2 linked regions of the Homo sapiens genome follow. The protein of the gene in region 1 purifies or fractionates together with the protein of each later gene. This does not show direct contact. Each region holds a gene or a part of one and is shown on either strand. Other genes may lie near its edges.

Region 1 (3,506 bases):
GGGTGCCAGCTTCCACTCTTAACACAGGAGGCCGCCAGAACAAGGGAGCAGAGGAGTCCCCTGTTGTGACATATGCCTGGAGAGGCTCACTCCTGCTGAGAACAGCGCTTAGTGAGCACAGCGGGAGCAGTGAGACCAAATAGCGGCCCAGACAAGCCACTGTGGTGGCCAGGCCAGGCCGAGGATAGAGGAGGATCAGTGGTTGGATTCCGTCGATAGATGCTGAATGTATTTTGGAGACAGAGCTGACAGGATTTGCTGGCAGATTGGTTGTGGGGCGTGAGTGTGGAGTTGAGGATGTCTCCTGGGCTTCTGATCTGAGCAACTGGCAGGACGGGGGTGCCGTTAACCAAGATGGGGACAAGGTGGAAAGATGAGAGTGGAGAGGCAAAGATCAGGAGTTTGCTTTGGGACACGTGAAGTTTGCAGTGCCCACAAGCCAAGGAGGCCAGCATCCATGATCTGGAGTTTGGAGGGCGGGTGGGGTTGGAGACGTGAACCTGGCATCACCAGCATGCAGGCTGTGCTGCAACACGAGACTTGCTGAGCTCAAGGCAGCGTGTCCAGATGCAGAGACAGAAAAGGACTCAAGAAACCAAGCGAGAAAAGTGTCTCAAGGAGGGGTGAGAGGTGACTGAAAATGGGACATGGATTTAGCTACCAGGAGGCTTCTGGGGCTCTTGGCAAGGACACCTTCCAGGGAGGGGTTAAACGGGAATGGGTGTGAGCAGAGGGTATAGAGAACAGGTTTCCGGGAGTTGTCAGGTTAAGGTGGATGTGTTGAGTGTGTCCACTGTGAAGCTGGGGGTGGCTGTCACAGGCAGACTCTTAGCCCCCGGCAGCGAGGGAGTGATGCTGCTCCGTGCTCTGTCCTTTCAGCACAGCGACATGGCAGGGGTGCATTCCTAAGATCCCTGCCCAAGTTTATCCTGGGCTGTGCCCAGGCCACCTGTGAGTTGTTCCCTCTCTGGGAAATGTCCCAGGCAGCAGCTGCAGCTGGAGAGTGGCCCGCTCCCAGGCCGGCACTCAGCTGGCGGCCCGTCTCATCAGGGCCTTTGTCCTGTTCTGCACGGCAGGCAGCAGCAATTCCCTGGCACCGCGTGGAGCTGTACAGGCTCGTGCTGTGCTGAGAGGCCTCCCCGTCCCCTGCCCCCGGCCCCTGTCCCCTGCCCCCTGCCCCCTTCCCCCGGTCCTTGTCTGCTGGCCCCTGCCCCCGGTCCCTGTCTGCTGGCCCCTGCCCCCGGCCCCTGCCCCCAGTCCCTGTCCGCTGCCCCCTGGCCCCTGCCCCTGTCTGCTGTCCCCTGGCCACTGTCCGCTGTCCCCTGGCCCCTGTCCGCTGTCCCCTGCCCCCTGGCCCCTGTCCACTGTCCCCTGCCCCCTGTCCGCTGTCCCCTGGCCCCTGCCCCCATCCCCGTCCCTTCCTCTCCTAGCCCCTCACCCCATCTCACTGTCCCCTCTGGCCTCTCCCAATTGTCTTCTCTCTGTCACAGGCTAATGACAAACTATGTGACCTTCATGGTGGGGGAGATTCTGCTCCTCATCCTGACCATCTGCTCCCTGGCTGCCATCTTTCCCCGGGTAAGAGGCACTTTTCTACTGAGCTCAGAAGCCTCTGGAAGTGAGTGGCACTCCCTGTAAAACTGGGCAGTGATGGAGTTATTCTTTCTGTCAAATCTGACAGGCAGACACTCCTCTGTTAGGACGGTCCAGGCACTTGCCCATCCATTCATTCACCATCAGCAGAGCACTCCCTCTGGCTGGGCCACCAGGCTGTGGCAGGCTGTGGTGGGCCACGGCTGGGCCGTGGTGGGCCTTGTTGGGCCGTGGCGCTGCAGCACGTATGAGTACGGCAGAGTCTGGGTAAACAAGAACCTGGGTAGAGAGGAAGTGGAGGGCCGGCTGGAAGGTGGGTTGGCCCCGATGGTGAAGGCCCTTAGAAGCCAGACTAAAGGGATTAAAACTTTCTCCTGTAAGGCACTGAGGTACCAAGCAGAGTTTTTTTTTTTTTTAATCAGAATGACAAAGGTAAAGCAGTGTTTAGGAACATAAATCTGACAGGTGGCTCGCCAGGTCACTTGGAGCCAGGATAGGCAGGAGTAGCTGGCCAGAGACGAGCAGCCCTGAAAACTGTTCCTGCCCTGGCCTCACCTCGTCACCACGTCTGCTGTGGAAAGGGCTGCGACCTGGAGGCTGTGCTGTTGAACAGGCACATCGAGGAGGTCCAACACAGCGTCAGAACTCCCACGCCCTCTTCTCAGCTCTGCCCCTTGGTCAGCTGTCAGGTGACTCCCAGGCAGAGTCCGTTTTGAGGCTCCTGGGACTGGAATACGGGACCAGCCTGAGTTGCTGTCAGTCACGTCGCAGGAGAAAGGACTGGCAAAGGCTCATGGCCCTTGAAATTCTGTTCCTTCTAGGCCTTTCCTAAGAAGCTTGTGGCCTTCTCAACTTGGATTGACCGGACCCGCTGGGCCAGGAACACCTGGGCCATGCTCGCCATCTTCATCCTGGTGATGGCAAATGTCGTGGACATGGTGAGCTCCTGCTGTCCTTGTTGAAGGGACGCCCCTGTTCTCAGTGGAGAAGGGCTTCTGTTTGGGTCACACAAGCAGTTTCTCAGTCCATCCCTCCACCGTCATGTAGCTTTGGAGTGGCTCTTAGGTTCCCAAACACATCATCCCCACCTAGTGGAAGGAGTCTTGTCCCTGTCATCCAGGGAGCCTCTGGGATGGACTTGTTTCCTTGAAGCTCCTCTCCCAGAGTCCGAGAGCACAGTTCCATGTGCCCAGGCCTGTGCTAGGTACCTTATGTATGTTGATTCATTTAATCTGTGAAAAAGTCCTGAGCAGTTGTACCAGTATCTGCAGTTTCATAGGGAGAAACTAACTCTCAAAAAGGGTAATTGGTTGGGCGCGGTAGCTCACGCCTGTAATCCCAGCACTTTGGGAGGCCAAGGTGGGCGGATCACGAGGTCAGGAGTTCGAAACCAGCCTGGCCAACATGGTGAAACCCCATCTGTACTAAAAATACAAAAATTAGCCAGGCATGGTGGTGCACACCTGTAATCCCAGCTACTTGGGAGGCTGAAGCAGGAGAATCGCTTGAACCCAGGAGGCGGAGGTTGCAGTGAGCCGAGATTGAGCCGCTGCACTCCAGCCTAGGCGACAGCAAGACTCCGTCTCAAAAAAAAAAAAAAAAGGTAATTCACTTGCTCTAGGTCACACAGCCAGGAAGTGACAGAGTCCAGAATGGAGGCAGTTCTAAGTCCCAGTCCTGTGTATTCTTCCTCCCTGAGGGGGCAGCCAAATGCTTTCTTGGGGAAAAGGGACAGGAGTTGGGAGCCCAGATCTATTGGTTTAGAACCACTGGGCACGTATTGAGCACTACATGCCTGGAGCTGTCATCAGTGTTCTCTTGTCAGTTGTCACGGCCTCCTCTAATTGTGGTAGTACCATATACACTATCTTCCTTTTTTTTCAAATATAATGTTATTGTTGTACTTTAACAAT
Region 2 (3,506 bases), on another chromosome or scaffold:
AAAAGTCTCTAAATTTTGTATACATGGGCGGATTTTCTCTCAAGATCTCTGGAAGACCAAAGAGGATTTTTTTTTTTTTTTTTTTTGAGATGGAGCTTCACTCTTATTGCCCACGCTGGAGTGCAATGGCGCGATCTTGGCTCACTGCAACCTCCGGCTCCCGGGTTCAAGTGATTCTCCTGCCTCAGCCTCCCCAGTAGCTGAGATTACAGGCATGCATCACCATGCCCGCTAATTTTGTATTTTTAGTAGAGACGGGGTTTCTCCATGTTGGTCAGGCTGGTCTCGAACTCCCGACCTCAGGTGATCCACCCGCCTCGGCCTCCCAAAGTGCTGGGATTACAGGCGTGAGCTGCCGCACCTGGCCTCAAACAGGATTTGTAAGACAAGGAGTGACAATGATTTATATTTTCAAAAGGACCAGCAGCTGCCATTTGAAAAACTAAAAGTGGGTTAGGATGAGAGCAGGAGGACCAGTTGCCAGGCCACTGCAGACGAGGCTGCGCATATGAGTCATGCCCACAGTCCCACGGGCAAGCAGTGAGAGACGAGGGCTTGTTCAGATGACAGCAGTTACGCTGGAGAAAAGTGGGGAGGCTCTGCCTGTATCAGGACTCAGTGGCAGACTGGATGTGAGGGGTGAGGAGAGGGGAGGAAGGAAGGTAACTCCCGGATTTTAGACATGAGCAACTGGGCAGAAGGTGGTACTATTTATTTAGATGGCTAAGAGTGGGGTGGACTGGTGTCGGGGGAAGGAGGAAATCAGGAGCCCACATTGGGAAGGGGGACAGGTGACTGGCCTAGAGACGCAGATTGAGGATCCCTGGCATATGGGTTGTACTTAAAGCCATAGGACTGGCTGAGATCCTGAAGGGCTAGTGTGTCAAAAGAAAACAGAGTGGGCTAGCGCCCGAGTCTAGTATACTCCAATGTTTTAGAGGAGGAGGTCACAAAGAAATAACAAAGGAGCTGCCAGGTTAGTGAGTGGGGTGATGCTACGGAAGTAAGTGTTCTGAGGAAGAGGAGGGAGGTACTGACTCTTTCAAATGCTGCTGTAAGGACAAAAAAAAAAAAATCAGAAAAGAGAAATGACCTTTGGATTTGGCAAGAGGACAGTCACTGGTGATCTTGACTAAAGCAGTCCCAGTGGGGCCAAGCCTGGAAGGAACAGAGCGAACAGAGAACTTGCAGGGAGAAAGCCAACTCTTTTTTTTTTTTTTTTGAGATGGAGTCTCACTCTGCCACCAGGCTGGAATGCAGTGGCGCGATCTTGGCTCATTGCAACCTTCAGCTCCCTGGTTCAAACGATTCTCCTGCCTCAGCCTCCCGAGTAGCTGGGATCACAGGCATGCACCATCGCGCCCAGCTAATTTTTGTATTTTTAGTAGAGATGGGGTTTTGCCATGTTGGCCAGGCTGGTCTCGATCTCCTGACTTTGTGATCCGCCCACCTTGGCCTCCCAAAGTGCTGGGATTACAGGCGTGAGCCACCGCGCCCGGCCGAAAGCCAACTCTTTAAAGGAGTTTTGCTGGGAAGGGGTGCAGAGAAATAGGATAGTAGGTGGAAGGGAAAGTGAGATTAGCAGATTTTTTGTTTTTAAAAGATAGGAAATGTAACATGTATAGGCTGATGAGAGTAGTGGTTAAAGAGGGGAACTGCTGATGGAGGTGGGAGAGAAGATGGTTATAGCAGCAACATCCCTGAGCAGGCAGGACGGAATGGGGCCAAGAGCACAGTGGACAGGTGGATTGAGAGATGCAGAAACCCTTTTCCACTGTAACAAGAGAGAATAGAGTTGGTACAGATTTGAAGAGGCTGGTTGTTTGGGGGTGGGAGGATGACAGTGTTCTTGTCTGATTTCTTGGAGAAGAATGAGGCCAGGTCACAAGCTAAGGTGTGAGTATGATGGGACAGGCAAGAGCAGATGCTGGAGGTTTCAGGAAGAAAAGAAAGAGCAATAGCATTGCTAGGTGGCACCAATTACCTCTATGAGATTTGTGGTCATGAGTTCAGTGTGAGAGCATTTGGCACTGTTTTGTGTTTTTGCCCAGTGATGTTTGCTATATCAGATAGAGGCATATAACTGGGTTTTACTAGAGAGTTTGCTATGAAAGTAAGAAAGCATGAGGGAATAAGGAAAGGTAATAATGACATACCACAAAAACTCAAATCAGAAAACTCAAACGCTCAAAAACAGAACTCAAAAACACACAGAGTAAGGAGGAAGGTGAGGACATGTTCGGTGTGACTGATGTTGAGAAAGTGGAGGCATCAATAACTCTAAGGACTTGATGAAGACAAAAATGACTGGAATAAAAGAGAATACTGAGGTGGGAGGAAGGAGGCAGTAAACAGGGCGGATGCCTTGTTGAGATTCCAAGGGCAGTGCAGATACAGGGCAGATGGTGACTTGACCATGGGATCAGGTGGCTGAGGAAGCTGAGGAATAGAAAGATTGAGGATAGATGGATCATCCACATGGTGACTGATGCCTCCAAAAGCAGAGTCAGGAACAGGGGCTCAAAAGGAGCAGTAAGCCAGGTGTTAAAGTCATCAGTGGGTGAGGGACAGAAGATGGGGAATGGGGATTCAAGACCAGTAGAAGAAAAGCTGGGGACTGGAGTTTCATCTCAGATTTGTGTGTTCACGTTACGGCCTCTAGATAATAGCATCTTAAAGAAGTGAAACAGGGAAGGTTTTCTGTCTTTTCTCCTACTTTGTCTTTCCACCAGATAGCATGAAGTCTCTTATGTCTTATGTCTCTTATGAGGTCTAAGGCGGACATGGTGATGGGGACACACAGCTTTGTGAAGACTAATGCTATCAGGTTTCACTATGCTTTAGAGAAGCAGGATGAGGCCTAGGGTTGGGCTAGGCCTAGGGTTGACCCAGCATGGGAGTTCCTGGCACTGCTCTGTCTGCCCAGGCTGATGATGGTCCAAGCTGCAGCTGCTGAGGGAACCCAGGCATCCTGGTGGACCCTTTTGATTAAAATAGAGCAGAAGGAGGCCAGGCGCAATGGCTCATGCCTGTAATCTTAGCACTCTGGGAGGCTAAGGCGGGCGGATCACTTGGGGTCAGGAGTTTGAGACCAGCATGGCCAACATGACGAAACCCTGTCTCTACTATGGAAATTAGCTGGGCATGGTAGTGCATGCCTGTAATCCCAGCTACTCGGGAGGCTGAGGTGGGAGAATCACTTGAACCCTGGAGGTGGAGGTTGCAGCGAGCTGAGATTGTGCCACTGCACTCCAGTCTGGTGGACAGAGTGAGACTCCATCTCAAAAAAAAAAAAAAAAAAAAAAAAAAAGCAGAGGGAGATAATTAAAAATTTTTAATTCCTTCGAGATTTTAATTTGTAAGTACAGAATTTATATTATGGGATCGAATTTTTTTCTCTGGGAACTTAATATTGTAGGTGAGGATGGTAGTGTCACTGTATAAGTGTAGGCACCTTTCATTGCATCATTTAGGCTTAGTGCGTTAATTACTTCTGGGAGCTACAC

What was found. Proteins that work in one complex are often made in the same cells at the same time.
Region 2: the proteins of ADCY3 (region 1) and PTPRA fractionate together in Homo sapiens (co-fractionation; one large-scale study listed by BioGRID). This does not show direct contact.

The regions. Positions count from the first base shown.
Region 1 is NC_000002.12:24,829,734-24,833,239, reverse strand, and holds part of ADCY3 (adenylate cyclase type 3), read left to right. Parts: intron 1-879; exon of another isoform or gene 880-1,160; intron 1,161-1,490; coding exon 1,491-1,578; intron 1,579-2,414; coding exon 2,415-2,531; intron 2,532-3,506.
Region 2 is NC_000020.11:3,030,481-3,033,986, reverse strand, and holds part of PTPRA (receptor-type tyrosine-protein phosphatase alpha isoform 1 precursor), read right to left. Parts: intron 1-3,506. UniProt on the Homo sapiens protein: Tyrosine protein phosphatase which is involved in integrin-mediated focal adhesion formation.